2 separate regions of the Homo sapiens genome follow, and region 2 is linked to region 1. The links come from fine-mapping of genetic effects on gene expression. A gene starts in region 1. The other region holds a variant in brackets. All regions are shown on one strand. Distances are between the middles of the regions. Region 1 holds the start of CACNG8 (calcium voltage-gated channel auxiliary subunit gamma 8). Region 2 holds the start of CACNG6 (calcium voltage-gated channel auxiliary subunit gamma 6).

Evidence for each region. PIP is the estimated chance that this variant, and not a neighbour inherited with it, causes the effect.
Region 2: its variant is fine-mapped to the expression of CACNG8 in whole blood (TOPMed, PIP above 0.99).

The regions. Positions count from the first base shown.
Region 1 is chr19:53,951,838-53,966,410 of GRCh38, forward strand. CACNG8 (calcium voltage-gated channel auxiliary subunit gamma 8) reads left to right here and starts at 11,100. Exons shown (of 4, transcript NM_031895.6): 1 at 11,100-11,588. The coding sequence starts at 11,306. RefSeq lists enhancers at 5,485-6,019, 8,230-9,130, 9,941-10,461.
Region 2 is chr19:53,986,923-54,002,874 of GRCh38, forward strand. CACNG8 (calcium voltage-gated channel auxiliary subunit gamma 8) reads left to right here. Exons shown (of 4, transcript NM_031895.6): 4 at 1-3,293. CACNG6 (calcium voltage-gated channel auxiliary subunit gamma 6) reads left to right here and starts at 4,715. Exons shown (of 4, transcript NM_145814.2): 1 at 4,715-6,286; 2 at 11,317-11,391; 3 at 12,712-12,849. The coding sequence starts at 5,956. The variant A/G (reference allele first, on the strand shown) is at 5,756.

The sequences.
Region 1 (14,573 bases):
GGAGACCCTAGAATATGTATCCACTCATTCCCTGACTCATTCATTTTCTCATTCATTCGTTCATTCATTCATTCATTTGTTCATCATCCCTGGACCCGAGGGCTCCTGTCCATCAGGGCTGAGCTGGGATCTAGGGGACACGGAAGTAAATCAGACCCGTGCCTGTCCTTGAACAGCTCCGGCACCAGTGCGGAGAAGACCGACCCACATGTCAATCACAATATAGCCTTGCTGTGGCTTTAAGGAGCCAGTGCAGGCCTGGTGGGAGCACTGATGTAGACCCTGATGGAGGCTTGGGAGGTCAGGGAAGGCTTCCTGGAGGAAGGAGCGTGTAAGTTGAATCTCAAGAGTGGATAGTGCCAGGTGCAGTGGCTCTGTAATCCCAGCATTTTGGGAGGCTGAGGTGGGCGGATCGCTTGAGCTCAGGAGTTTGAGACCAGCCTGGGCAACATGACGAGACCCCCTTCTCTACCAAAAATACAAAAAAAAAAAAAAAAAAAAAAATAGCCGGGTGTGGTGGTGCTTGCCTGTGGTCTCAGCTACTGGGGAGGAAGAAGTGGGAGGATGGCTTGAGCCTGGGAAGTCAAGGCTGCAGTGAACCAAGATTCCACCACTGCACTCCAGCCTGGGTGACAGAGCAAGACCCTGTCTCAGAAAGAAAAAAAGAGTGGATAGAGGGTTTGCCATATGGCTGAGATGGAAGGGGATTCCACGGAAGAAAACCACCCAGGAAACCCTCAGAACAGGAAGGAGCTGGGAATGGTAGGGAAGACACCTTCAGTCTGCAGGAGGCAGCAATGGGGGCGGCATACGATGAGACTTGTGCTCTTGGCAAAAGGACATAGGTGAGGAGCTTAGATTTACTCCTAAGGGCAATAGGGAGACATAGGAGAATTTTATTTTATTTTATTTTTTATTTTTTATTTTTTTGAGATGGAGTCTTGCTCTGTCGCCCAGGCTGGAGTGCAGTGGCGTGATCTTGGCTCACTGCAAGCTCCGCCTCCCGGGTTCACACAATTCTTCTGCCTCAGCCTCCCGAGTAGCTGGGACTACAGGCGCCCGCCACCTCGCCCGGCTATTTTTTTTTGAATTTTTTAGTAGAGACGGGGGTTCATCGTGTTAGCCAGGATGGTCTCGATCTCCTGACCTCGTGATCCGCCTGCCTCAGCCTCCCAAAGTGCTGGGATTACAGGCATGAGCCACCGCGCCCGGCCGAGAATTTTATGTTATTATTATTTTTTGGGAGACGGAGTCTTGCTGTTGCCCAGGCTGGAATATAGTGGCACAGTCTTGGCTCACTGCAACCTCCGCCTCCCAGGTTTAAGTGATTCTTCTGCCTTAGCCTCCCAGGGAGCTGGGATTACAGGTGTGCGGCAGCACACCTGTATTTTTAGTAGAGACAGGGTTTCACTATGTTGGCCAGGCTGGTCTCGAACCCCTGGCCTCAAGTGATCCGCCTGCCTTGGCCTCCCAAAGTGCTGGGATTACAGGCGTGAGCCACTGCGCCTGGTGAGCTCTGGGTCTCACAAGGCTGAAGTTAAGATGCCGGCTGGCTGTGTCCTCTGCTGGGGATTTGGCTAGGGAGAGAACTACTTCCAACCTCCCACAGGTTGAGCAGAATTCATTTCCTTGTAGTTGTTTGGCTGAGGTCTCTGTTTTCTAGTTAGCAGTTGCCACTCACTCTCAGGTCTTTGCCATGACAAGACAGTTTGCTTCCTCAGGGTTCTCAGCAACTCCTTTGCTTTGGTTATTTCTGACGTCTTGATCCTTTCCTAAGAGATCACCTGATTAGGCCAGGCCCACCTGGGATAATTTCTTTTCTTTTCTTTCTTTTTTTTTTTGAGACGGAGTCTCACTGTTGCCCAGGTTGGAGTGCAGTGGCGCGATCTCGGCTCACTGCAGGCTCCGCACCCCCGGGGTTCATGCCATTCTCCTGCCTCAGCCTCCCGAGTAGCTGGGACTTCAGGCACCCGCTACCTTGCCTGGCTAATTTTTTGTATTTTTAGTAGAGACGGGGTTTCACCGTGTTAGCCAGGTTGGTCTCAATCTCCTGACCTCGTGATCCGCCCACCTCAGCCTCCCAAAGTGCTGGGATTACAGACGTAAGCCACTGCGCCCAGCCGGATAATTTCTTTTTTAATGAAGTCAACTGATTAGGGACCTTAATTATATTTACAAAATCCCATACCTTGCCATATAATGTCACATAATCATGGGGACTGCATCACCTCCTAGTGACAGCTCTTGTCCACACCCAAGGGAAGGAGATTCTCTTGGGTGTGTACACCAGGCGGTGGGAATCTTGGAGGTTATTTTAAAATTCTGCCTATCACAGTTGGAAGTGAGGACCGAGGACCTTCTCAAGGGAAGGGATTAGCAAACCTATCTCTAAGTCTGCAGGCTCTAGGTCTCTGGGTCAAGCCCAGCAGAGGCCTTGGCTAATGTGAAATGAATATGTGAGCAAATGTAGAAATGAGATCTTATAAAAGTCTACAACCTGCTTCTTCTGTGACACCCCTTCTGAAGGGGCCTTCCATGAGCTGAAGGAGTGATCAGTGGGTTCAATACTCCCATCCATCTATCTTTCTTTCTTTCTTTCTTTCTTTTTTTTTTGAGACAGAGTCTCACTCTGTCGCCCAGGCTGGAGTGCAGTGGCATGATCTCAGCTCACTGCAAGCTCCACCTCCTGGGTTCACGCCATTCTCCTGCCTCAGCCTCCCGAGTAGCTGGGACTTCAGGCGCCTGCCACCACGCCCGGCTAATTTTTTTTATTTTTTATTTTTAATAGAGACGGGGTTTCACCGTGTTAGTCGGGATGGTCTCGATCTCCTGACCTCGTGATCTGCCCGCCTTGGCCTCCCAAAGTGCTGGGTTTACAGGCATGAGCCACTGCGCCCGGCTTTTTTTTTTTTTGAGACAGAGTTTCACTCTTGTTGTCCAGGCTGGAGTACAGTGGCACGATCTTGGCTCACTGCAACTTCCACCTCCCAGGTTCAAGCGATTCTCCTGCCTCAGCCTCCCAAGTAGCTGGGATTACAGGCGTGCACCACCATGCCTAGCTAATTTTTGTATTTTTAGTAGAGACGGGGTTTCACCATGTTGGCCAGCCTGGTCTCGAAATCACGACCTCAGGTGATCTGCCCGCCTCGGCCTCCCAAAGTGCTGGGATTACAGGCGTGGACCACCACACCTGGTAATACTCCCATCTTTCAAAATGAAGTGAAGAGATGCTATCTCATTCCTTAAACTCATTCTACAAGTTCACTGCCAGGTATGTGCCCAAGAGATATGAAAACATATGTCTACACAAAAATGTGCACACAAATGTTCACAGCAGCATTATTTGTAATAACCAAAATGTGGAAGAAACTCAAATGTTCATTGATACATGAATGAATAAATAAAATGTGGTATCTCCCGCTATACCATGGAATGTTATTCTGCCATAAAATGGAATGAAGCACTGGCTCATGCTACAACATGGATGAACCTTAAAGACATTACTTACTTAGCCTGAAAGCAGCCAGACACAAAGAACCATACGTTGTATGATTCAATTTCTATGAAATGTCTAGAATGGGAAAATCTATACCGACAGAAAGTACATTAGTGATTGCCTAGGGCTGGAGTGGGTGCTTAGATTGGGGGTGATGGCTAAGGAGTACACAGTATCTCCTTGGACTAATGAAAATATTCTAAAAGTGATCTGAAGTTGATGATTGCACAGCTCTGTACAATTAAAAGCCGTTGAATTGTACACTTTAAGTGGGTGAATTGCATGATATGTGAATTCGATCTCAATAAAGCTGTGAAAAAAAGAGATATACTCTTTAGTTGTTGAAATAAATCATGATGTAATCATGCATCACTTAGTGTCACAAAATTACCAATAGAAGAACTAACACTTGAGGAAGAAGGGAAGGAAAAGTGAGGGCTGCATGAATTGATTTGTTATCTATTAGAGAAAAAATATCTATAAATAATGTATAATTTTGATTCCAAAAGAAAATCATTATTTAGGGATGTCAAGGCAAGTAAGAGAAGAAATAGCTAAGAATATTAATAGACGGCCGGGTGTGGTGGCTCATGCCTGTAATCCCAGCACTTTGGGAGGCCGAGGCAGGCAGATCAAGAGGTCAGGAGATCAACACCATCCTGGCCAACATGGTGAAACCCCATCTCTACTAAAAATGTAAAAATTAGCTGGGCATGTTGCTGCATGTCTGTAATCCCAGCTACTCGGGAGGCTGAGGCACAAGAATGGCCTGAACTCGGCAGGCAGAAGTTGCAGTGAGCCGAGATTGCGCCATTGCACTCCAGCCTGGCGACAGAGTGAGACTCCGTCTCAAGTAACAAGAACAAAAGCAAAAACAAGAATGTTAATAGACTTTTCCAATAAGGAAAAGGACTTGAGGTGGAACAGGCTAAATTATTTTTATTGTAGTCCCTTGTGTACCATTTGATTTTTTTTCTTTTCTTTTTTTAAACCATGAGCCTATATTGATTGGACTAGGAAATATATTTTCATTTAAAATAAAATAAAGAGGTTTCCCCCAGTTGCTAGTTCGTATAATTTAATAGTTCTCAACAGGGGCGATTTTGTTCCCCAAGGGACATTGAGCAATGTTTGGAGACATTTTTGGTTGTCCCCAAATGCTATTTTTAGGGTGCTATTTGGAGGTGCTATTGGCATCTAGTGGATAGAGGCGAGGAGTACTGCTCAGCATTCTACAATGCACAGGACAGCCTCCACCACACAAAATTATCCAGCCCAAATGTTGAGAACGTTGAGATTGGGAAACCCTGGCTTTAAAAAATTATCTTCATAGTCGTTCTCACCAGTGCAGTTGTATCAGCACAGGCTCTGGAATTTGATGTCCTGATGAATGTCCTCCAATACAACTGACCTCTCAACCTCAGTTTTCACATCTTTAAAGTGGAGGCTGCTAACAGAACCCACTTCTTTTGAAGATGGAACCAATACCCTCAGGCTCCTTGGAGTCTGTAATATTAAATGCCCAGTTTGTTTTTATTTTTATTTTTTTCGAGACGGAGTTTCACTCTTGTTGTCCAGGCTGGAGTGCAACGGTTCGATCTCAGCTCACTGCAGCCTCCACCTCCCTGGTTCCAGTGACTCTCCTGCCTCAGCCTCCCAAGTAGCTGGGATTACAAGCATGCACCACCATGCCCGGCTAATTTTGTATTTTTAGTAGAGACGGGGTTTCACCATGTTGGTCAGGCTGGTCTCAAACTCCTGACCTCAGGTGATCCGCCCGCCTCGGCCTCCCAAATTGCTAGGGTTACAGGCATGAGACACTGCACCCAGCCTAAATGTCCAGTTTATATTGGTTATCATCATTGTTTGCTGATGTATCTCCCCCCGCATCCCCCAGCAAAAGAGCAGAAAATAATCAACTTTCCTCAAACGAATGAATTCCAGACCCCTTCCCTTGGGGGCTGTGTTTCTTAGCTTCTAAACCAGGAGTGTTGGAATGCATGTCTAAACTTTCTCCCATGGGGCGGGGTGAGAATTAAGTGAAACGACCTAAAGAAATTTCAGTAGAAATGTGAGATGCTGGGGACTGAAAGATATCGCCCCTCCAAAGGAAGGAACCAGCAGGAGCAAACACTAGGTAAATAGATTTAGGGAACACAGGTTATTCCTGTTTCTGCCAGCCCCCAGGAGGGAGCAGTAAAGGTGTGCTGGGTTAAATGACTATGAATTTCACCTATTGTTGGCCGCCCTCCACCCCCATAACCCCTATTGTCTCAGAGCCTCAGGTTACTCATGGTTAATGTAGGAACATTGGTGCCCACACGGCAAAGATTCTGTAGGACTTCTGTAAGACAGCGAAGCATGCCAACAGCCTTCAATCAGCCATGGCTACTAGTTCTTAGTTTCTGATAACATTTTTACGAGGATCGGGTCTTGAGTAAACGGCTTGCCTAGAGCCACGTGCAATCCCACTTCCCATCCGCGTTCTCACTTGGTTGGAGGCAGCTTCTGTGCCCTTTATAACCAAGAGCAACTGAGTATAGAGGAGAAGAAGTGTTTTGTCCAAGGTCACACGAAGCCTTGGGAGCATCCGTGAAATTTGGACCCAAGACCGAACTTTCAGACTCTGATCTCAGACTTTCCACCTCCGATTGTTCCACTTCCCCAACCTACTAGCTAGTTCTAGAACGGACAGATCCATGCTTCTCAAAACTGTTGCATAGACCCCTACCCAGTCCCAGACAAGTTTCTTTAAGACATATTTGCACCCAAGCTTTTGGCATTCTACTCTCCTTCCCAGCCCCAGCCCCATCTCGGGGGCATCTAACTCTACCCCTTCTTCCCCATCAGGTTTGAACTAGGGGAGGGGAGGGGGATGAGAAGAGAAAAGAAAAAATTGTTGGTGAAAGTCAAAAGGCTTGTTAACGTGGTAAGTTCAATATTGTTTTATCTGGGGTGGTGGGGGGGGAATCTTTGCCCTCGCCACTTGGAGGAGGAGCGGTGGGAAGACCCCGGGAAGTTGCGCTTTCCCTTGGATTTTGGGAAAGGGGAGCATTCCTGGGGTCCTTTTGAAAAGGCCCTCCCCTCATTTCCGGCCGCCGCTGCCAGCCTTGGCTGGGCGCCTGGATCCTGTTGCTATGACGACAGGAAGAGGCGGTGGCGGCGGCAAGCGATGCTGAAGAGAGATGGAGGCTAGTGGGGGTGGGGGTGGTGGCATTGGAATGGGGGAGGGGGCAGGGATCCGGGGCTGGGGACGCGGGAGGGGGCGGGGGCAGGGGTATCCTTCATCTCTGACCTCCTCGGGGCTTCTCAGCCTCACCCCTCTCCCGTTATTTTTTCTGGGCTTCCTTCGGGTGCATCCCCAGTCTCTGTGTCTGCCTCTGTTTCTCTGGATCTCTCTCTCTTCCTGTCTCAGTCCCTCTCCGTCTGTCTCTCTCTGGGTCTCCCTCTTTTCCTGCACTTGCCTTTCTTTCCCCAGGTACCTTCTGCCATCCAGGCCCTTCTACCCTCCATTTCTTTCATTTACTATCTTGCTCCCCCGCTCCCTCTCCGCATCTTCTTCTCTCTTTAAAGCTTCCTTCTCTCTAGCAAGACCTTGCCCCCATCCCCAATTTCTCTCCCTACCCGCTCTCCATTTCATTCCCTCTCCCCCCTCTCTCCCCCATCCTCTCAGTCTCTCTCTTTCTGTCTGTCTCTCCCCATCTGTCCCTCCTCCCTCCTCTCTGGATGACTCTCTCCCTCTCTCTTCTTTCCTTCTGTTTCCCAGATCCTGACCCCCCCCACACACACACTTACCCCAGCCCTCCCCCACCCCCTCCCCCCCAGCCCCTGCGTTTCTCTCTTTGAGTCTCTGTCCCTGTCCCCTTCTCTCTCTGGATATTTCTCTGTGTGTATCTCTCCAACTTCCTTCTGCTTCCAGCCGCTGCCTCCCCCAAATTTCTCCCTCCCCCATTTCTGTTTCGCGGTCTCTGGGTCTCTCTCTTTCCGTTTCTCCTCGTCTCTCTCTGTCTCTCTCCCTCCCTCTCTGGATCTCTCTCTTCTCCTCCGGCTTCCTTCTGCCACTCGACCCTGCCCCCCTCTTTCCCTTCCCCCATCCATCTCCTCTCCGAGGCTCCCCATCCCTCAGCAGCTCCCCTCCCCCTCCCTCCCTACTCCCTCCCTCTCGTCCTCCAGCTCCGCACTTTACCCAGCGACACGAGAACCAAATTGTCTCCTCACCTTTTTTTTTTAATATATATATCCCGACCCTCACTCCCTTGGGGCCCAGGCTCAGAGCTGCCCCCCAGCCCCAGCCTGACCTCAGCACCCCCATTCCCCATACGCCTCCTCATCTCCACTCCCCGAACCAGGTCGGACGCCTGGGTCCCTCACTGCTGGGGGAGGGGGAAGCAGCGAGAATTGGGAGCCAAAAGGTTTTTCTGGGGGGGGTGCCAACAGGGGGGGCTCGACGTCCCCTCCTCCGTGCATCGGAGAGTTGACCTATCATTAACAGAGGTGAGACAGATCTTTTTATTAATCGGAGGTGGGTGGAGGTAGAATTAATGTTCTGTGATCCCCCCCCCCGAATTCTGGAGAAAAGAGCTGGTCCCCTTCCTAAGGAGAAAGGAGAGTGACCCCCTCATATCCGGAAGCTTTAGAATTGGGGGTCCCCAGCTCTCTTCTCCCTGGCAGCTGCTGAACGATGGACTAAGAGTCCCTAAAACCAGATTGTGCCCCAAATTGACAAAATGAAAAGATCTTCGAATCTTTTTTTTTTTTTTTGGACGGAAGGAGAATTTCCCTCCTTTCCCTCCTCTTCCCTTCCCCTCTTATCCCAGGTTGTTAGGGGCCTGGGGTCACAGGCTTACCCCACTGAGAGCAGATATCTGTTAAGACAGGGTAGGTGGCCCTGCTGGTGGTGAGGGGCACCAATTCGGGGAGAAGAGGCCAAGAGATCAAGAAGAGAGGAAACTCAGCATGCGGACAGAAAAGAGAGGAAGGGGCCGGCGCCCAGGCCGGGAGGCTGGGGGTTGCCCTGTCCAGCGGGCTGCTGAACTGTGGCCTGAGGAAGGGCTGTGTGTGGGCAGACGGGAGTTGAGGTGGGGGAGGGAACACAACGTGTGGGGCACTAGGCCCAGTTGCCATGGAGACACCCCCCATAGACAACCTTTTTCCACAGCCCCTCCTCGGAGCAGCCCCAGTCTGAGGCCAGCTGATGGGGGGCAGTGGAGACGGGCAAGCAATCAGGAGGCCAAGGTCACCCTGTACTGGGACCTAGGTTCTGGTTTTTGTTTTGTTTTTTTTTAATCCCCTCTTCGTCTAAGGTTTCCAGGCTCTTAACTATAGTGGGTTTGGGGGAAGAAGTTGAAGAAGCAGTGTGGAAGCAAGTAAGGAGTACATCCCCCAGAGGACAGTTGGGGTGGGGGAGACAGGCAGGGCTGGGGGCATGGTGGTCGGGGGAGAATGTGGAAGAGAGAAATGAAGGAGCCACGGGGCAGCGGGTGCAGGCTGGGAAAGTATTCCTAATTGAAAAGAGAGTTGTAGTCTTGCGGATCACATTTTTCAGAGGGACACAGTCTACTGGGGGGGCTCTTTCTGCATGTGGAAGAAGATGAGGGGCTACAGTGTGTGTTCCTGTACAGGTGAAGTCGTAGAGGGGAGTACTGGGGGGCGTTCCCAAGAAGGGAAGCCTGTGGGGGCCTGCGGAGGGGATTTTCCGGGGCAGAGGAGAACCTGGGAGCTATAGCGGTGGAGCAAGAGGAAGTGAGTCAAGGGAATTCTATATGATGAGAGAGAAGTTGGGGAGGATGCTTCCTGGTACATTGAAGAGAGAGTGGGCTTCAAAGTGAGTTAGGGGGATCTCAAGTTGGGGGAAACAGTGTGCTGAAGATCCCGTGTGATGATGAAGGGCTACGAGGAGGGGATTTGGAGGCAGTGGGAGCTGCTGTGAGTGCAGAGGGGCGGGTGGGTGGTACAGTGTGCCCCCTGCTATGGGAGTACAGGGCAGAGATTGGAATGGTCCTGAGTGGAGAGACATTTGGGGTCTGGAGGAAGCCATTCTTGCGAGTAGAAAATGCCGTGGAACTCACGGAGGAAATTTTTCTTAATGGAGGAGAAAACGATGGTTATGATATGAGTTCGTTTAAGTTGTGGGGGGGGGGGTGGCGGGGTGGGAAGATTCAGAAAACTCTTCTAAAGCAAAAGAGAGGGTGGGGGTTTTCCTGGAGTAAAGGCATAGTATGGGGTGGGGAGTGAGTGGCTTGTGGGGAGACAGTGGGGGCTGTGACAGGGAATGGGCTGGAGATGGCGGGGGGGGGGCAGCTTGCAAACCAGTGGGTCTGATGTTGGGTGCATTAGAATTCCCCAGGGAGCTTTTAAAAACTTACATGCGCAGGCCACACTGCAGACCAACCATGTCGGACTTTCTCAGGTGGGACTCAAACATCCGAATTTTTAAGGTCCTCGGGTGATTTCCAGGTGTGTTGGAGGCTGCCCGAGGCAGGAAGGGGGCTTCCAGGGAGAGGAGGCTGACTGAGGGTGGCTGGTGATTCCGAGTTGCACAAACTGTGAGGGTCAGCTGGGATTTTCTTTTTCTTTTTCTTCTTCTTTTAATTTTTCCTTTTTAGTTGAAGAGAGGTTGAGAGATTTATTTTTTCCTAAGGAGAGGAAACTGTGGGGGACCATTTGGAGTGATGGAATGACAAAAGCCAGACCGGAGGGGGCTCGCGGAGGTTACTCCCACGGAAGTGGTGCTACTCGGGCTTCTTAAGTTGTGGAGACGCTCAGGGAAAAGTTGGGCTGACAGGGAAGGGTTCTAGCGGGTGGAGAGGTGGGGCTTGCAGGGGAAGAGTGGGGAGAGCTGGTGGGCGCCGCATGGTGATGGGGCGGGGGTCGCTAAGGAAGGAAGAACGCGACGGGGGCTCCTGGGGAGGAGGCGGCGGCGTGGGGCTTGGCATCATGGCGGGGGGTGGCTTCCCATGCGATGAGGATCGTGGAGCCCCCTGGGGCGGAGGCGGCGCGGGCTAGGGGCGAGGGCTGTGAGTGTGAGCGGTGGTGGGGACTCCTCCGAGTGGGGTTAGTGGGATGGTGGGACGACTTTCTTGGGCAGAAGACAGGAGTGGAGAGAGATTTCATCTTATTTATTAATTATTAGCGGTGGTGGGGACTCCTCCGAGTGGGGTTAGTGGGATGGTGGGACGACTTTCTTGGGCAGAAGACAGGAGTGGAGAGAGATTTCATCTTATTTATTAATTATTAGCGGTGGTGGGGACTCCTCCGAGTGGGGTTAGTGGGATGGTGGGACGACTTTCTTGGGCAGAAGACAGGAGTGGAGAGAGATTTCATCTTATTTATTAATTATTAGCGGTGGTGGGGACTCCTCCGAGTGGGGTTAGTGGGATGGTGGGATGACTTTCTTGGGCAGAAGACAAGAGTGGAGAGAGATTTCATCTTATTTATTAATTATTATTATTATTATTATTATTATTATTATTTTTGAGAAAGAGAAGCAGTGGAGCCCCGAGTGGAAGGAGTTTCTGGAGCTGAGGCAGGGATTTTGGGGGGGGGGGGGCGGGGACTGGGGGAGGTACCTGTGCCTTCTTCTCCTCTAATGCGAGATCTCGCTCCTTGCCCTCCACCAGCCGCCGACCATGGCCGCGCTCTGACCCCCTCCCCGGCCGCAGCCTCCTCCTCGCCGCCCCCCTCCCCAGCCCCGCCGGCCCCGGGCCCCCCGCTTCTGCCTGCGCTGTGAACCCCCCCCCAGCCGCCGGCACGGCCCCGCCCCCGCTGCCCCGGTGGTGGCCCACGGCCCCCCGGCTGCCCGTGGTCAAACTGGAGTCGCTGAAGCGCTGGAACGAAGAGCGGGGCCTCTGGTGCGAGAAGGGGGTGCAGGTGCTGCTGACGACGGTGGGCGCCTTCGCCGCCTTCGGCCTCATGACCATCGCCATCAGCACTGACTACTGGCTCTACACGCGCGCCCTCATCTGCAACACCACCAACCTCACGGCCGGCGGCGACGACGGGACCCCCCACCGCGGGGGCGGCGGCGCCTCGGAGAAGAAGGACCCCGGCGGCCTCACGCACTCGGGCCTCTGGAGGATCTGCTGCCTGGAAGGTAGGGTGCGGGCGGCCCTCCCCGCAGCCCCCGCCGCTCCCCTCCGAGAGACCCTGAGCCTCCCGGGGCTGCCTGTCCCTGATCCTGGGGCCCCCTTGGGCACCCCTCCTCCTCTGCCAGAGGGGCTTCTGCGCCTTCCCACTCGCGCCCCTGACCTCCTCTCCCCTCCTTCCCACTCCTCCCTGCGTCCTGGCACCCTGCGGAATTCCTCGGCATGCTCCCTCTGCAGCCCCTCTGCCTCTCCGCTGAACCCCCTTATCCTATCTTTCCCTAGTCCGTGTCTCCTGCGCTGCCCCATCACACCCCTGCATCTTCCCTCTCTCCAGTACCTGGGGCTCCTCCTGTTTCATTTCTTCCACTCTGCCCTGTGCCTTTTCTCTTTTTTTTTTTTTTTTTGACAAGGTCTCACTCTGTCGCCCAGGCTGGAGTACGGTGGCACAATCACAGCTCACTGCAGCCTCGAATCCCTAGGCTCAAGCCATCCTCCCACCTCTGCCTCCTGAGTAGCTGGGACCACAGGCATGAGCCACTGTGCCCAGCTAATTTTTTTTATTATTTGTAGAGATGAGGTCTCCTGTTGCCCAGGCTGGTCTCGAGCTCCTGAGCTCAAGAGATCCTCCTGCCTTGGCCTCCAAAGTGCTGGGATGAAGGGCATGAGCCACTGCACCCAGCAGCCTCTTTCTCCCTCTTTCCCGTCAGTTCATCTTGACCCTGCTCCTCCGCTCCACCTGCCCCTTCATTTCCTCTCCCTCGTGCCCCGTGACATCTTCTCTCTCCCGACATTTCCCCCCCAGTCCTCTGAAGTCCCCTGCCTCTCCCGCCCCCTTTCACGGCCCAGTCTTCCGGTCTGTCTCTTTCCCCTTCTCTTTGGCTGCTGCTCCCCTGAAACTTCGTGCCTTAACTCGCCCTCACTCATGACTTTCTCTCTTTTCTGCCTTGTGCTTCTCCTCCTGTTCATCTTTCTCTTCCCATCAGTGCCCCCACCCATGTCTCTCCCACCAGGGTGCCCTCCAACCTCCCATCCTGGTCCTTTCCTCCTTTTTCCTTTAGTGGACTCCACTTCCTCTTCCTCCACTCATGCCTCCTTCGACGTCTTCCTGACTCGATGCCTCAGGCCTTCACGTTAAGGCTTCTCGCTCCTGCCCCTGCTACCTCCTCGGATCTTCGACTTGGTTCTTTTCCTCTGTCCTGTTCTCCCTCTCACAGCTTCTCTCCTAGCTCGGCTCCCTGGCTCTCGACTTCCCCACTTCTCCAAGACTCCTGCCCTCTGCTGTGCCAACCCCTTCTCTCTCCCACTCTTAGCATCAGTATTTCTTTCCTGAGTATCAAGTAGCTGCGGGGCTGGGAAGCAGGAGTCTTGGGTGCCAGTTCTGCTGCATATCTGCCCTGCTGTGTGACCACTGTCTTCCCTCCTGCACCCCAGCCTCACAGCCCTTGTCTGCAACGTGAAGGAGTGGAACCAGCCATCCTGATGCCCCCTTCGGCCAAAAGATTGAAATCTCTTGCTTCTCTTTTTCATCCCCCTCTATTTCCTCTGCCCCTTCTTCCTCTGTTTTGCTGAGTGTTCACGACAAGCCGGGAACGTTATCTCGTTTAATCCTATGAGGTGGGCACCACCTCGCTGTTGGGGATGGGTAAACTGAGGCTCAGAGAAGTGAAGTCACTTGCCCAAGGTCACCTAGCTGAGAAAGGGGCCGAGCCAAGAGCAGAACTCGAATCTCATGGATGGGATTCACAGATGCGCTCTGTCTAGTGTACAAAGTGTTTAAAACTGAAAGCAAAATCTGAATCCATTGCCAACAGTTAAAAATAGGGAGGCTTCCCATTGTAGTTCTGATTTCCGGCTTCTTCTGAGCTGGCGGAAGATCTAGCACAAGCCTGTGTTCTACCCTGACCACGATGGGCCGGATCTGAGCAGCAGCTGGGGGGTCTCCACTTCCCCACAGTCACCTCCATCTGCTCCGTCTCGCCTCCCATTCCTCCCACGGCTCTCGTGATGTTCTTTGCCTCTCCTGTGGAAGTTTGAGTTCATGTCCATTCACTGGTCTGACCAAGTACCAGGCATAGAGCCAAGTGTGAGGGCTCCCATCATGGGAGCCCTAGGACAGCACGTGGCATCTAGTAGGGATGTCATTCATTCATTCATTCGTTCATTCAACGTCCCATTTTTATTGAGTTTATATTATGTGCCAGGCATTGTTCTGGATTCTGGGGCTGCAGCAGTGGAAAACAAACAGACAAAACCTCCTGTCGTTATATATCTTATATTCTAAGGGAGAGACAGATAATGATGGAGGTAAAGTCAACCTTTAGGGTGTTAGATAGAACTGAGTGCTAAGGAGGACAAGGAGTTGGGGGAGGGGATGGGAGGGGTCAGGGATCCCCGTGGGAAGTAGATAAGGAATCTAGGAAAAGCTTCCCCGAGCAGGTGACATTTGATCACAGGTCTGAAGGAAGTAAGAGATGGAGGAAAGTGCTTCAGACTGTAGGAATAGCAGGCGCAGAGGCCCTGAGGTGGGAGTGTGGCTGTGTGTTGATCAAGCCAGTGTGAGGTCAGCGTGGCCGGGGCAGAGTGGGTGGCGGAGAACGTAGGAGTAAGAGGTGCAGTCGTAGGGGTATCAGGGTCCCCATCCCACAGGTTCTGTTTTTTAAAAATTATTTATTTATTTATTTATTTATTGAAACAGAGTCTTGCTTTGTCACCCAAGCTGTAGTGCAGTGGCGTGATCTTGGCTTACTGCAACTTCGGCCTCCTGGGTTCAAGCGATTCTCATACCTCAGCCTCCCGAGTAGCTGGAATCACAGGTGTGTGCCACCATGCCCGGCTAATTTTTGTATTTTTAGTAGAGACAGGGTTTTACCATGTTGGCCAGGCTGGTCTCGAACTTCTGACCTCAAGTGATTGGCCCGCCTAGGCCTCCCAAAGTGCTGGGATTACAGATGTGAGCCACCATGCCTGGCCAGCTTCTGTGTTTGTTTTTGTTT
Region 2 (15,952 bases), 36 kb after region 1:
ATCCACCATAGGACAGAGGCACAGGGTAGGGGCTGATCAGTTAGGGCCTTGGATCCTTGGGAAGAAATCTGAATTTTATTCTAGATCTGATGGGAAGTGCTTGGAGGGTTTTGAGCACAGGCATGCCATGATCATATTTTTATTTTCTTATTTATATTTATTTTGAAAAAGAGTCTTGCTCTGTCTCAGGCTGGAGTCCAGTGGGCTGATCTCGGCTCACTGCCAACCTCCGCCTCCCAAGTTCAAGTGATTCTCCTGCCTCAGCCTCCTGAGTAGCTGGGATTACAGGCATGTGCCACCACGCCTGGCTAATTTTTTTGTATTTTTAGTAAAGACGGGATTTCACCGTGTTGGCCAGGCCAATCTGAAATTCCTGGCTTCAAATGATCCACCTGCCTCGGCCTCCCAAAATGCTGGGATTACAGGAGTGAGCCACTGCGCCCGGCCTCATATTTTTATTTAAACAAGAACAGCAGAATTACATTGCTGTGCTGAGCATACGTAGACTTCAGGAGTCAAAGGGGAAGGAAGGAGGTAGCGGGCTGTTGCCTTCCTCTGGTTGCTGGAGGCCTGGACCAAGGTGGAGTTAGTGGGATGGAGGAAGTGGAAGAAGGCATGGGATTTTGGAGGCTAGAGCCTGCATTGGTGGTGAACTGGATGTCATAGAGGAGGGAAGGAAAAGGAACCAGGAAGAGAAGAACTCTCTGAATTGGGCACGCACATCTCTGATGGGCACCGATGAGGATTGTTACCAGGAACGAGGAGACTGGGATCAGGAAAGTGGCTTTGGGAGGGAGGAACCAAGGCTTCTCTTTTGGATGTGTCAAGATAGATCTGCCTTCGAGAAATCCGAGTTGTGGTATCAAATAGCCAGTTGGATATGTGAGACTGGAGTTTGGGGGAAAGAGAGGCCGTGGCTCAAAAACGTAAGTTTTGGAAACGTCAACATAAAGCCACAGGATTGGGTGACGTGGCCTAGCAGGGGGGTGGGGACAGAGAAGCGACCCTGGCCAGAGCCTTGGGGACATCTACATCTGGGGGAGAAGGGGATGTAGCAAAACGAGCTTAGGAGTGATCTCGAGGTAGGCTGAAACCAGGAGGGTTACAGAGGGCAAATGCACCTTTGTGTTTCAAGAAGGAGAGGAGACAGCCAGCTGTGCCAAGGGCTGCTGAGACTTGGACAAGGATGCAGAGAGCAGAGTGACCATTAGGTCTGATGACATGGACAGGGTTGGTGATCTTGATAAGATAAGATGTCAGTTCAGTGCAGTGGTGGGGACAGAAGCCCTGCTGGAGTGGAGGGGAGAGAGAATTTGGGGGGAAGACAGAAGGAAAGGGAATTCAGGCAAGTGTGTGTGTGTGTGTGTGTGTGTGTGTGTGTGTAACTGACACAAAGGCCAGGTGCGATGGCTCACGTGTGTAATCCCAGCACTTTGGGAGGCCGAAGTGGGTGGATCACTTGAGGTCAGGAGTTCGAGACCAGCCTGGCCAATATGGTGAAACCCCGTCTCTACTAAAAATACAGAAATTAGACAGGTGCGGTGGTGCACACCTGTAATCCCAGCTACTTGAGAGGCTGAAGCAGGAGAATCTCTTGGGCCCAGGAGGCAGAGGTTGCAGTGAGCCAAGATCACACCACTGCACTCTAGCCTGGGTGACAGAGCAAGACTCTGTCTCAAAAAAGAAAAAAGGTAAAAAAAAAAAAAAATGACCCTGAAAGGAAGTAGGGAGACATGCAGATAGGGAGATGGGAGGCAGAAAATTGCATCCTGCAATTAGCTGTCACAGCAGGCAGGAGCAAGAGAGATGGGGAAGCCCAGGGCCAGGAGGGGAAGATGAATTCAGGGGGCAGGGAAGAGAGGATGCTGTCAGCTAGGCTCTGGCAGATCCCCTAGCCAGGGATGCTCTGCCCAGCTCCTGTCTCTTGCTGCTGTCAGCGCCGGGCACACTCTGGGATTCCCCCTGTAGACCCTGTCAAGACCTATTGAGGTGAAGGGGAAGAACACGTTTTCATCATTCATTTTCAGAAATAAACATTCACTCAGTTCTTGGAAATACTTTCTGGCCAGGCTTGGGGGCTCATGCCTGTAATCCCAGCACTCTGGGAGGCCAAGACAGGAGGATTGCTTGAGGCTTGGCGTTTGAGACCAGCCTGGGCAATATAGTAAGACCCCGTCTCTACAAAAATGAAAAATGAGCTGTGGCGTGGTGGCTCACGCCTGTAGTCCTAGATACTCGGGAGGCTGAGGCGGGAGGATTGCTTGAGTCCAGGAGTTTAAGGTTGCAGTGAGCTATGATTGCACCATTGCACTTCAGGCTGGGCCACAGAGCAAGACCCTGTCTCAGAAAACAGAAAGAAAGAAAGTCAAAGAAATAAAGTCAAAGACAAGAAGGTGATACAGAGAAGACAGAAAAGGAGGAGGAGAGAGACTGACAGGTACACAAATCAGAGAAGTCCCAGAGATAACAAAAACACAACCACAGAGATAGGGAGACGTAAGCCGGAGAAAGACCCAGAGATTCGCATAGAAAGCAACGTGGAGACTCAGAAGCAAGCACAGCATCAAGGAATGATCAATAAAAAGAAAAAAAAATATTTCCTGAGGACTTCCAAGTACAAGGCCCTGCAATCTCAGGCCACTTCTGTCCCATCTCTGCCTTCAGAGGGGGGGACAGGTAGTCCAGACAATTAGAATACAGAGGGGGCTGTGTTCTGACGGGGCCACGCGGGCATTGAGGAAACGCAGCAGGCCCCTCCCCTAGCTGGGGCGGGGATGTCTGTGTGCCATCATCTCACTCCATCTGGTCATTCCTTTGCCCATTCATCCATCCATTCATTCAAGTCACCCCATGCACATTTTCCAAGACTGCCTGTGACCTGGCCCTGTGCCGGGTAGAGCTGAGGATGCCAAGGTGAATTCCTCCTGTGCCTGGCCCCGGCCCCAGTCTGCTGGAAGAACCAGACACAGACAATCACACTGCGGGGAAACACGTGCTCCATCGGAAAAGTCCAGAGCAGGGGGTGGGCAGAGAGGCCCAGCGTGCACCAGAGCCTCGCTCAGGTCAGCGCCAGGCCTGCCTGGAGCAGCCAACTGTGGGAGAAGAAGGAGTTGGTGAAAGGTGGGTCCCACCTGGGCCGTCCACAGAAGGGCTGAGGGGTAGGGGGTGAGGGGTTGAAGATCAGGCCCTGCCGCCATGCCACACGGCTGTCCTCTGTCCCTGCTCCTGGGGGAGCTGAAACTGCATGGAAGGTCCCCCAGGGGTGCCCCGTCTAATAAACTCGATGAAGAGGAGTGCTGCTTTCATTCTGTGCCCCTGACAGCCGGCCCTGCCCTGAGGCCTGCGCTTTCTCCAACATGGAAATCAGGCCTTCCATCCTTCAAGACCCAGGGTTCTGGCCCCAGTCTCCTCCCTGAGGCCCAGGACTCTGGGTCTGCCAACGCCTTGACCAGGAGTCCAGGCTCCCCGGCCCTCCTCCTCCCTCAGACCCAGGAGTCCAGGCCCAGCCCCTCCTCCCTCAGATCCAGGAGTCCAGGCCCCCTGCCCCCTCCTCCCTCAGACCCAGGAGTCCAGGCCCAGGCCTTCCTCCCTCAGACCCAGGAGCCCAGGCCCCCAGCCCCTCCTCCCTCAGACCCAGGAGCCCAGGCCCCCAGCCCCTCCTCCCTCAGACCCAGGAGCCCAGGCCCCCAGCCCCTCCTCCCTCAGACCCAGGAGTCCAGGCCCCCAGCCCCTCCTCCTTCAGACCCAGGAGTTCAGGCCCCAGTCCCTCCTCCCTCAGACCCAGAAGTCCAGGCCCCCAGCCCCTCCTCCCTCAGACTCAGGAGCCCAGGCCCCCAGCCCCTCCTCCCTCAGACCCAGGAGTCCAGGCCCCAGCCCCTCCTCCCTCAGACCCAGGAGTCCAGACCCCCAGCCCCTCCTCCCTCAGACCCAGGAGCCCAGGCCCCCAACCCCTCCTCCCTCAGACCCAGGAGTCCAGGCCCCCAGCCCCTCCTCCCTCAGACCCAGGAGTCCAGGCCCCCAGCCCCTCCTCCTTCAGACCCAGGAGTTCAGGCCCCAGTCCCTCCTCCCTCAGACCCAGAAGTCCAGGCCCCAGTCCCTCCTCCCTCAGACTCAGGAGCCCAGGCCCAGCCCCTCCTCCCTCAGACCCAGGAGTCCAGACCCCAGCCCCTCCTCCCTCAGACCCAGGAGTTCAGGCCCCCAGCCCCTCCTCCCTCAGACTCAGGAGCCCAGGACCTAGGAGACCAGGTTCCTCTCCTCTCAGATCCAAGATTCTGGGTACCCAGGCCTTCTTCCTCTACCACTCAGAAGTGGGGTACCGAGGCTTCTTCTCCCTTAGGGACCCAAGACTCCTGGCCTCAGGCCCTCCTCCCTGAGACCCGGGGCCCTGCCTCCCGCCCCTCCTCCCTGGTAACCCCAGTCAGACTTGCTGCCCCGCCCGTCTCCTGCTGCCCGGGAGACTGCGGAGCTGGGACTCTCGGCGCCGCTCTTGCCCCTTAGTGAAATGAAAGTCCCATCAGGCTCGGCCCCTTCCTCCCCGGGCGGCCTCCCTCCCCCCTTCCTCGTCCCCTTAAAACACCCGGGATCCCTATGGCAACAGGCGCCGGGCGACAGGTGCGGGTGTTATTTACGGGTCAAGCCCGAAATAGCCCCGAGGGTGGAGGGTGGAGGGTGGGGGGTGGGCGGGTGGGGACGAGGCCGGGCGCGGGCGGAGGCCAGGCCGGTGGCGGTGGCGGGCACAGCCGGACGCTTCGGAGGCAGCGCGGAGCTGGGGTCGGCGCGGGGCCGAGGCAGGAGAGCGAGAGGGGCCCCTGCTCGGGAGTCGGGGGTGGGAGCCCCGAGGGGGGGCCCTGGCCTGGGGCTGAGCCTGGCGCGAACCCGACCGGGAAGGCCCTGGGAGCCCGGGGGAGGGAGACGGACTGATCCCGAAGGGGCGCAGCGTCTCTTGCGGGTCGCGGTTGGCCTTTGAACCCTGGGGGGACTCAGTCCTGGTTTTCCGAGCCGCAGTGCGGACCACAGCCCCATAGTGTGAGCCCCAGGAGGGCCCCCGGTCCCATCTGCCCCAGCCCTCGGGGAGGCCCCGTAGCCTCCCGCCTCTGGACTCCACTCTGTCTTCCGGCCACCGGCCCCTTTTCCAGGCTCAGTAGAGACCTCGGATCTTTTCTGAATGGCAGGGGAGACCCCTATCCCCTTTTCCTGAATTCCAGCGAGGCCCAGTCCTCTTCTGAGCCCCAGCCAGGGCTCTGTTCTTCTCCTTCTGTGGATGCCGGGGTCCTACTGCCTCTCTTGAGACCCGGATTGAATTCCGACCTCCCCTTGGGAGCTTCCCGGGACCCCAGGTCTTCCTTTTCCGAATCCCAGAGGGTCCCCAAGTCCTCTGTTCTCAAACTCTGAGCCCAAGGGAACCCCGGCCACATCTCCTCCAAACACACACAGGACCTCAGGTCCCTTCCTGGGTACCCCAAACTCTTAGCCCTAGTGGGGTGCTCAGATCTCTCAGGAAAACCAGTTTCCCTTTTGTTAACCCCCCAGCGGGGACCCCAAAGCAGCCCCTTGGAGCTGCAGGGAGCTTCAGCGGGCACCAGTTCTCATTCCTCTGGAGCTCTTGGGGGGACTCCCTCCTGGGAAGCCGAATTCTATCTCTAAACCTCAGGGTGGGGGCCTTGTTTTTCCTCTGGGCCCCGTCTTCTTTGCCAAGTTCTTGAGGGCAACCTAGACCCTCCTCTGAACCCCAGAGGCTTCCCCAGCCCTGGGGATC[A/G]TTTTTCTCTTCTGAACCCCAGAAGCAATCTCGACTTTCGCATTTGAGATTCCAGACAGGACTCGGCTCTCCCTCTTTCATACCCAGGGGAAACTGAGTCCCTCACCCCCTTCAAGACCCCAGGCCGCTCCTCGCTCCCGCCCCTCGAGGCCCTTCGCCGGCTCTGCCTCCTCCCCCTTCCCGACCCCACCGGCCATAAGATGATGTGGTCCAACTTCTTCCTGCAAGAGGAGAACCGGCGGCGGGGGGCCGCGGGCCGGCGGCGGGCGCACGGGCAGGGCAGGTCGGGGCTGACGCCCGAGCGCGAGGGGAAGGTGAAGCTGGCGCTGCTGCTGGCCGCCGTGGGCGCCACGCTGGCGGTGCTGTCCGTGGGCACCGAGTTCTGGGTGGAGCTCAACACCTACAAGGCCAACGGCAGCGCCGTGTGCGAAGCGGCCCACCTGGGGCTGTGGAAGGCGTGCACCAAGCGGCTGTGGCAGGCGGACGTGCCCGTGGACAGGGACACCTGCGGCCCCGCGGAGCTGCCCGGAGGTGAGCAGCCGCCGCCCCGAGCGCAGGGCTTGCGTCCCACGGACAGGGAGGGAGAGGGGCCCGTGTCCGAGGAGAAAACCCGCCCCAGGGACAAAAGCCTGAGCCCGGAGGAGACAGCTTGCCTCGCAGTAAGCGCCAGTGCCCACTTCGTCCTCTGCTCTCAGAAACTGCTGAGAGATAGAGGGATCCCCCAGATATGGCCCAGGTCCCTCACGGGCCTACCGCCAGAGAACCTGTGCCTTAGAGCTTGCTTTCCTGCTACAGACTGTACCCCAAGACCAGAATGTGCCTACAGGGAGTCTGTGCCCCCAGGCCATCCTGTACCCCCAGACCAGGCTGTGACCTGAGACCCCCTCAGACGAGTCTGTACCCCTATTCTGCACCTCTAAAGAGAGCTTGTGCCCCCGCCTACAGCCTGTGCCCCAAGACCATCCTGTACCCCGACTATCCTGTACCCCCAGATGAGCCTGTGTCCCCAGCTACAGTTTCCACCCCCAGACTAACATGCACCCCTAGACCAGTCTATACCCCCAGACCAGCCTGCATCCTTACACCAGCCTGTGCCCTCAGATCAGCCTGCACCTCCACACCAGGCTATGGTCCCAGATGATTCTATGACCCCCAAAGTCCCTGCCCCCACACAGCCAATGTTCCCAGGCATCGCTGTGTCCCCCCAGACCAGCCTACAGCTCTAGAGAGAGCCTGTGTCACTAGAAAAATCTTGCCTGTGTCCCCAGACCCAGCCTGTGATTCCAGACACAGCTGGTGTCCTCAGATAGCCTGTGCCCACCCCAGACAGCCTGCACCCTCTGGAAGTGCCTGTGCCCTGGAGACAGCCCGTGCCCACTCTGCATGTGCCCACAGACAGCCTGTGCCCATGGAGAGACAGCCTGGGTTCCTGGTGTCAGCTTCCTCTTCCCAGCCTGGAGACAGCTTGCGCTCCCATCCTGTGAGCCCTGGGGAGACAGACGCCCACCCCAAAGCAGGATCTATGCCTGTTCCCCACCTACTGCTTCCACCAAACCAAGCTCTCACCAGACGCCTCCCAACACCCGAGGGCAGACCTTGTTCCTTCCCTGCAATGTTCTTCACTTCCTGTCCTCTCGCCTCCAAATGCCCAGACTGGACATTTCAGCGTTTCTCATTTTCTCCGAGAGACATTCCCATACTCCCTCCTTTCCCAAATCATGGCTGTTTTATCCCTGGGCATGGCAGAGAGCTGTTCCATACCTCCCTGACACGCCACGCCACGGCTTGTGCTTATACCAGGGGGACATTCTATACCCCTTGGGAACTGGATGAAATCTCCTTCTACCTCCACTGACCCATGGAAAATACCTGGCACTCCTCAGAGCCCATTTGGGCTGTCATATATTTGATCACCCATATGAGATCTCCAGCACTCTTCAGTCTCCAAAGACGGTCCTATCATCCCAGTGCCCCTCAAAGAATATGGCCTATTTTTCTGGGCTCCGTATGAGATTTCCCTCGTCCCTCACTTCTCCAGATGTGATATCTTATATGTGTAGAGTGCAAAATAGGATGTCCCAAGCCCTCGATAGGACAGTGGGATGCCAGGCCCCCCGGCTGTCTGAGCTACCCACTTGGTGTCCAGATGGGCTACCCTTGATCATTTTATTTCTGCAGATGGGCTGTCTCTGGCCCCTCAGGGGTCTCATAAAGGATGATCTCAAACTTTTGCAAAATGGGAGTCCCCAGTAATAAGAATAGTAGCTGCTTATGTAATGCCTGGTTCTCATCTCAGTGTTTTATGTACATTAACTCATCAAGCATCATAGCTAGCCTATGAGTCGTTATTATCACTCCCGTTCTAGAGAAGAGAAAAATGAGGGGGCGAGAAATCTCGGTGGCTCGGTCTATGCACCCAGGCTAGTTAGATGGAATTTGAAGCTTGGTTGCCTCTCTTCTCAACAACTGCATTATATCACATCTCACTGGTCCATCAAGAGATCCCAAAGGTCAAAGGTCCTGGGACAATGGAGGGGTGGCCCATCCCATCTCACCGCATTGTATGGGGTTCCTTGCATCCCTTGCTGTCCCCTCCATTGATCAGAAAGGACTTCAGTCTTCCAGCAGGGCCATTAACGTTATCTTACAAACCCAACCCCTCAGAGGACATCTCTCAATCTTCATTATCTCAGAGAAATATCTCACACTCACCACTGCCCATCAAAAGGCATCCCTGGCTCCCTTGGCTATAAGTATGGAATGTGGGGGTGACCCTTACCCTGCACTTTTCCAGATGGGATGTGTCATGTTTGGGGGTGGTCGAATTGGGATGTGCTAAACTATTAGTAGCCAAAAGAGGATGCCAGGCAACCTACATTGTCCCAGAAGGGCCGTCACACTTCCCTTGTGGATGTAGACCGTGTTTCCCGCAATGACTGCTTCAAAGAGCACCTGCACCCTTCGCTCAGTGACGTGAAGCACCCTTTACCTCTTTTTCTTTGAAATGGAGTTTTGCTCTTGTTGCCCCGGCTGGAGTGCAATGGCACGATCTCGGCCCACTGCAACCTCTGCCTCCAAGGTTCAAGCAATTCTCCTGCCTCTGTCTCCCAAGTAGCTGGGATTACAGGCATGCACCACAACATCCGGCTAATTTTTGTATTTTTAGTAGAGACGGGGTTTCACCATGTTGACGAGGCTGGTCTCAAACTCCTGACCTCAGGTGATCTGCCCGCCTCGGCCTCCCAAAGTGCTGGGATGACAGGCATGAGCCACCACGCGCAGCCCAGCATCCTCTACCTCTTGCTGCTGCATAAGAACTCACATATCCCACTCCTCCTGGCCGGACATCTCACCCCTTCACCTCCCCTCGGGGTACTTGGGGAGCGCCCGCCCACACCACCTCACCTGACTCAGGGATTGATTTCTTGTCCCTTCATATCCTTGTTCAAATTGAAAAGTTCAATTTTTCACATTCATGGACTGCCTGGTCCCTCTTCTATGGCCTTTACTCCTGTTATTCTCGACCTCTCTTCTCTCTTTCTGTGCCTCAGTTTCCCCATCTGTAGAATAAGAGAGTAGGTCAGGCTAGGTGAATTCTGAGGGAATTTCTGGGTCTAAAATGCACTTCAGAAAGTGCTCCCCTCCCTTCCTTCATTTCTCCTTCCTTCTCTCCCTTTCTTCCTTTTTCTGTCTTTCTTAACTTTAAAATTTCTCTCTCTCTCTTTTTTTTTTTGAGATGTAGTCTTGCTCTGTCACCCATGCTGGATTGCAGTGGTGCCATCTCAGCTCACTGCAACCTCTGCTTCCCGGGTTCAAGCGACTCTCCTGCCTCAGCCTCCTGAGTAGCTGGGATTACAGGCATGTGCCACCACTCCCGGCTAATTTTTGTACTTTTAGTAGAGATGGGGTTTCACCATATTGACAAGGCTGGTCTCGAACTCCTGACCCCAAGTGATCTGCCTGCCTTGGCCTCCCAATGTGTTGGGATTACAGGCATGAGCCAGCACACCCGGCCCTGTGCTTTGTTTTATATTATTTTTTCCTCGTTCTTTTCCAGCTCATCTCTTTAATGTGTTTGATATACACTCACAGATATGTATTTTGACTTGGAAAATATATAGTGTTAGTTTATATGTGTGTTTTACATAAATGAGATCATGCTATTGATTTTGTCTGATCTTTGGGATTTTTTTTTTTTTTTTTTTTTTTGAGATGGGATCTCACTCTATCACCCAGGCTGGAGTGCAGTAGTACAATCTTGGCTCACTGCAACCTCTGCCTCCCAGGCTGAAGGGATCCTCTTGCCTCAGCCTCCCGAGTAGCTGGGATTACAGGTGTGTGCTGCCACACCCAGCTGATTTTTTGTATTTTTGGTACAGACGGGGTTTCACCACGTTGGCCAGGCTGGTCTCAAACTCCTGAGCTCAAGTGATTCTCCTGCCTCGGCCTCCCAAAGTGCAGGGATTACAGGTGTGAGCCACCTTTCCTGGCCTCAATTTTTGGATTTTTAAATTAAATTATTAATATTAATTATCATTATTGTTTTGATCAACACTGTGTTTCTCAAATCTCTCCATCTTGCTTTAGGTTATTCTAATTCATGGCTATATGTACTGGAGAGATTTTCACAAGGACTGTCTGTGTCATTTACTTGTCTGTTCCCCATTAGATGGACACCTGACTTGATTCTGACTCCATGTTACTTATAAACAGTGCTGCTGTAAACATCTGCATATATATTCCTGTTTTGTTTTTTTTTTCTGGAGTTATACCCTGCAATGAAATTGTTGAGCCACAGGCTATGAACATTCTTCATTTCATAAAGTACCTCAGAGTGCCTTCCCAAAAGACTAGGAGTACCCGTTCATACACGGTGTTTCCTCTTATCTTTTCAAACGCTTGATATGACCCTTTTAATGTTGGCCAATCTAATTGATGGGAAGTGGTGGCTCCCTGCTGATTCCGGCTGCCTCTCTCTGATCCCTGGTGAAGTGGGGCATCTCTCCATGGACTTATGAGTTACCCAGGCTTCCTCTTTTGTGAATTACTATTCATACCCTTTGCCCATTTGTCAACTGGGTTCTCTCTCTCTTCTTGCTAATCCGCAGGAGCTCTTTGTGTGTTCTAGGTAGGAATCCTTCCTGAGACAGGATTCCTTTCTGAGTCTGTTAGTCTTCTGCTACTTGTATCTTGGTATCCTTTGTTGAATCAAGTGATTATCCATATGTAATCCCACTTGACCCTCAACAAACCCATACGAAGGGGCCAGGAAAGAGATTATTATCTCGTTTTAAAGAGGAGGAACTAGAGACCCAGAGAGGCTAATGGCGCACTTGGGGCCACAGGTCTGGGGCTCAGAGCCCCGGGTAGGAGTCCCAGCTCCTAGATGGCAGTGTGGTCGCAGGTGGCTTTCACACCTCTGGGCATCATTTTTCTCCTCTGTGTATCAGGGATGCTGATGTCCAAGTTTTAGGCTCCCGTGGGCTGTTAACTGTCCAGCCCTGAGCTTACGCAAGGGACCTCACATCCTCATGTCTGTTTTCTCTCTCCTGCTCCCACAGAAGCAAACTGCACCTATTTTAAATTCTTCACCACGGGGGAGAATGCACGCATCTTTCAGAGAACCACAAAGAAAGGTGAGAACTTTTCACCCCCTGCTGGGTGACAGGTGGGGGAAATGCTGAGCGTGCTGGAGGAGTTCTAGAGAGAGTTATCCCCTCCTCTGCTTTACCCCAGGGCAGGTCTCGTGTCTATAATCTGTGGCTGTCCCCTGGGGAGTGCTGGCGGGAGAGTTAATGATGGGGACATGGTGCTCTAGAGAATCTAGAGAACTCTTTTTTTTTTTTTTTTTTGAGATGATGTCTTGCTCTGTCACCCAGGCTGGAGTGCAGTGGCACAATCTCGGCTCACTGCAACCTCCGCCTCCCAGGTTCAAGCAATTCACCTACCTCAGCCTCCTGAGTAGCTGAGACTATAGGCGCCCACCATCATGCCCAGCTAATTTTTATATTTTTAGTAGAGATGGGGTTTCACCATGTTGACCAGGCTGGTCTTGAACTCCTGACCTCAGGTGATCCCTCTCCTCAGCCTCCCAAAGTGCTGGGATGACAGGCGTGAGCCACTGCACCTAGCTGTGCCTAGAGCTCTTACCCCATCTCTGCCTATGCCACGTTCTGTGTCACCCCGGGCAAGTCGCAGCCCCTCTCTGTGGGTAGCACTTGGACATCTCACAAACCTGCAGGCATCAAGTACTGACCACAGTGCTGGGCACTCCATCTGTAAGATCTCCAGTCCTCGCAGTAGCCCTGCAGGGTGGGGGCTTTATCTTCCATCTTCCAGAAGTCCAGGAATGGTTACAATTATTCTTCCCAGGAAAATTTTTCACCATGTTGGCCAGCCTGGTCTTGAACTCTCCTGATCTCAAGTGATCCACCCACCTTGGCCTCCCAAAGTGCTGGGATTATAGGTGTGAGCCACCGCACCTGGTCCACAGGAGGAAATTTAGGCTGAGAAGGGTTCAGCCTAAATTCCTACTGGAATCTGGAAAATCCTACTAGAATCTTCCATGTAGGAAGTAGTTGGTGAGATTTCCAACCTGGATCATTCCACTGTAGCACACTGCCTTTGCCATCGTCTCCCACACACCCCACTGCCTCAGCTTCCTCAACTGTAAACCAGTGGTAACCAGATCCTAAGTAATAGTTGGTAATTCTCAACTCTTTCTAATCCTGGCCCTCTCCTCCCTTTGCTCAGTGACTTTAGAGAAATAACTGACCCTTTCTGAGTCTTAATTCCTTCAACAGTGTAAGTAAAATGTTGGGCTGGATGATACTCTACTTGAAAATTCTTCTCTCGTCCCGAATCTTACATCTTCCTGGTTCTGGGTTCCTATGGGTGAATCCTCCTCATTCCCTACATCCCATGTTCTCTGCTTCTTTCCTCTCTCCTGCTGGCAGAGGTGAATCTGGCAGCTGCGGTGATAGCAGTGCTGGGCCTGGCAGTCATGGCCTTGGGGTGCCTCTGTATCATCATGGTGCTCAGTAAAGGTGCAGAGTTCCTGCTCCGAGTTGGAGCCGTCTGCTTTGGCCTCTCAGGTGAGGGTTCAGAGCCTGGAGGCTGAGGACATTGCATGCTGGGAGGATCTCCAGGCACTGTTGCATGCTGGGAGATGGGGTCTCTATGCACTGTTGCACGCTCAGAGATGGAATCTCTATGCACTGTTGCATGCTGGGAGTAGGGTCTCCACACACTGTTGCATGCTGGGAGTAGGATCTCCACACACTGTTGCACGCTGGGAGGTGGGATCTCCAAGCCCTGTTGCATGCTTGGAGTTGAGGGGAAGCCCAAGGGCTATAGTAGGTTCAAAGATGGGAGAACCCCAACAACCGGGCTAAGGATTGGAGGGTGTCCAAACATTGTTTTAGATTTGGACCTGGGATTTCCAATCACTGTTGCATGCTAGGCATTAGAGAAAGCGCAAGGACTATAGAGGTCTCAAAAATTGGAGAGTTCTAAGCCCTGTTGTTGGCTGGGAATTGGAAGCTGTCCAAACGCTTTTCAAGGTTTGAACATGGAGTCCCCAAACACTGTTTCATGCTGAGATGTTTTAAGCACTATAGCGTGTTGAGAGGTCAGGGAAGCCCAGGGGCTATAGCAGGCTCAAAGGTGGAAGAGTTCCAAGCCCTATTGTTGGCTCAGAATTTGATGGTCTCTAAATGCTCTTTTAGATTTGAGACTTGAGGTCTGCAAGGACTGTTGCATTCTTGGAGCTGAAGGTCTAAATAAAATGCTGCATCTTGTGAAATGTAGCCCTCAGTAATAAACAACACTTCAGTTTATTGTACTTCCAGTTCAAATCCTTACAACAGCACTATTAGGCAGGGCTTACTATCCCCCATTTTATTTACTTATTTATTTTTGAGACAGAGTCTCCCTTTGTCTCCCAGGCTGGAGTGTAATGGCATGATCTCGGCTCACTGCAACCTCCGCCTGCTGGGTTCAAGTGATTCTTCTGCCTCAGTTTCCCAAGTAGCTGGGATTACAAGCAGGCACCACCACGCCTGGCTAATTTTTGTATTTTTCGGTAGAGACAGGGTTTCACCACATAAGCCAGGCTGGTCTCGAACTCCTGACGTCAAGTGATCTGCCTGTCTTGGCCTCCCAAAGTGCTGGGATTATAGGCATGAGCCACCACACACAGCTTCCCCCATTTTATAAATGAGGAAATTGAGGCTCAGAGAAGTCAGATGAATTACTCATGGGCACACAATCAATGATGGCATGATGGCAGAGGTGGGATTTTAAACTCGGTTTTCTTTCTTTCTTTTTTGAGATGGAGTCTCACTCTGTCGCCCAGGCTGGAGTGCAGTGGCACGATTTCAGCTCACTACAACCTCTGCCTCTAGGTTCCAGCCCAAGCTGTGCCCTGAATCACTGTGTGGCCTTGGGAAGGTTCCTTTTATTTTCTGGGCCTTGGTTTTCTTCTTGGATCAAATGTTTTCTTTTCTTTTCTTTCTTTTTTTTTTTTTGAGACAGAGTTTCGCTCTTGTTGCCCACGCTGGAGTGCAGTGGCACAATCTCAGCTCACTGCAACCTCCGCCTCTCAGGTTCAAGCAATTCTCCTGACTCAGCCTCCCAAGTAGCTAGGATTACAGGTGTGTGCCACCACGCCTGGCTAATTTTTGTATTTTTAGTAGAGACAGGGTTTCATCATGTTGACCAGGCTGGTCTCCAACTCCTGACCTCAAGTGATCCACCCACCTTGGCCTCCCAAAGTGCTGGGATTACAGGCGTGAGCCACCGCGCCCGGCCAAGACTTTCATAAAACACTTTTATATCAACACCTTCCTGTGCACCCCCAGGGGTAATGCAGGTGTGAGTTTAATAATAACGCCAGCACCAAATTCCTACCAAGCTACAAATTCCATGAAAACAGACATCATCTTTATCTTTTTCATCGTTCTGTCCTCAGGGATTTAGAGAGGGCCTCTCTGGGGAGGTGACATTGAAGATGTCAAAGTATGGATAGACAAGCTGGGAGAGTTTGCTGCATTGCAGATCTTGAAAGAAAGCCAGTGTGACAGGAGTGTGGAGAGAGACAGGGAGACTGGTGTAAAAGATGTCACTGCATTAATGTGACATTAATGTCACTGGTCCTGTGACATTAACAGGGAATCAAAAAGATCTGGGTTGGAGTCCCAACTTCTTAACAGCCATGTAATTGGGGCAAACCTTTTTCTATCTCTGAGCTTAAATCTCCTTATAGCCATGAACTCACTCATCCATGTATCTGTTAGTATTGTGTCCATCCTATCCATCCATCCATTTATCCTTCCGTTGATTGATCAGTTTCCTCCTTCTCTCCCCTTCCTTCCCCTCTCTCTCTTTCCCTATGTCTCTTTCTATCTCTCTCTTTTTTTTTTGTTTTTGAGACAGGGTCTCGCTCTCTCATCCAGGCTGGAGTACAGTGGTGCAATCTCATCTCACTGCAACTTCGACTTCCAAGGCTCAAGTGATTGTCCTCCCTACCTTTCAGCCTCCTGAGTAGCTGGGAATACAGGTGCATGCCGCCAAGCCCGGCTAATTTTCGGTTTTTTTGTTTTTTTTGTTTTTTTTTTTTTTGTAGAGATAGGGTTTCGCTGTGTTGCCCAGGCTGGTCTCCAACTCCTGAGCTCAAGTGATCCGCCCACCTCGGCCTCCCAAAAGTGCTGGGATTATAGGTATGAGCCACCAAGCCCGGCCCCTCTCTCTTTTCTTTCTTTTCCACCCTCTTTCCCTTCCTCTCTCCCTCCAATCATCTATTTCTCCTTTTTTTTTTTTTTACTTGTCCATTCATTTAACAAGTATTTCTTTAATATCCAGTGAGTCCCAGATGCTGTGCTAGGAGCCGCTGAGGACGCAACGATGAATAAAATAAAGATGATGTTTGTTCTCATGGAATTTGTAGCTTGCTAGGAATTTAGTGCTGGTGTTATTATTGAACTCACACCTGCATTACTCCTGGGGGTGCACAGGAAACTGTTGATATAAAAGTGTTTTATGAAAGTCTTGAGCACAAAAATGTTCCACAGATTGTACAACCAATTGAGAGTGAAGAAGGATTTGATGTTGTAATTACTGTGGTTAGATTGCGTGTCAGGGACTGGGGCAGGTTGGGATTTTGAGGTCTCCCTAAATAAAGGGTCGTGTTCAGGTTGT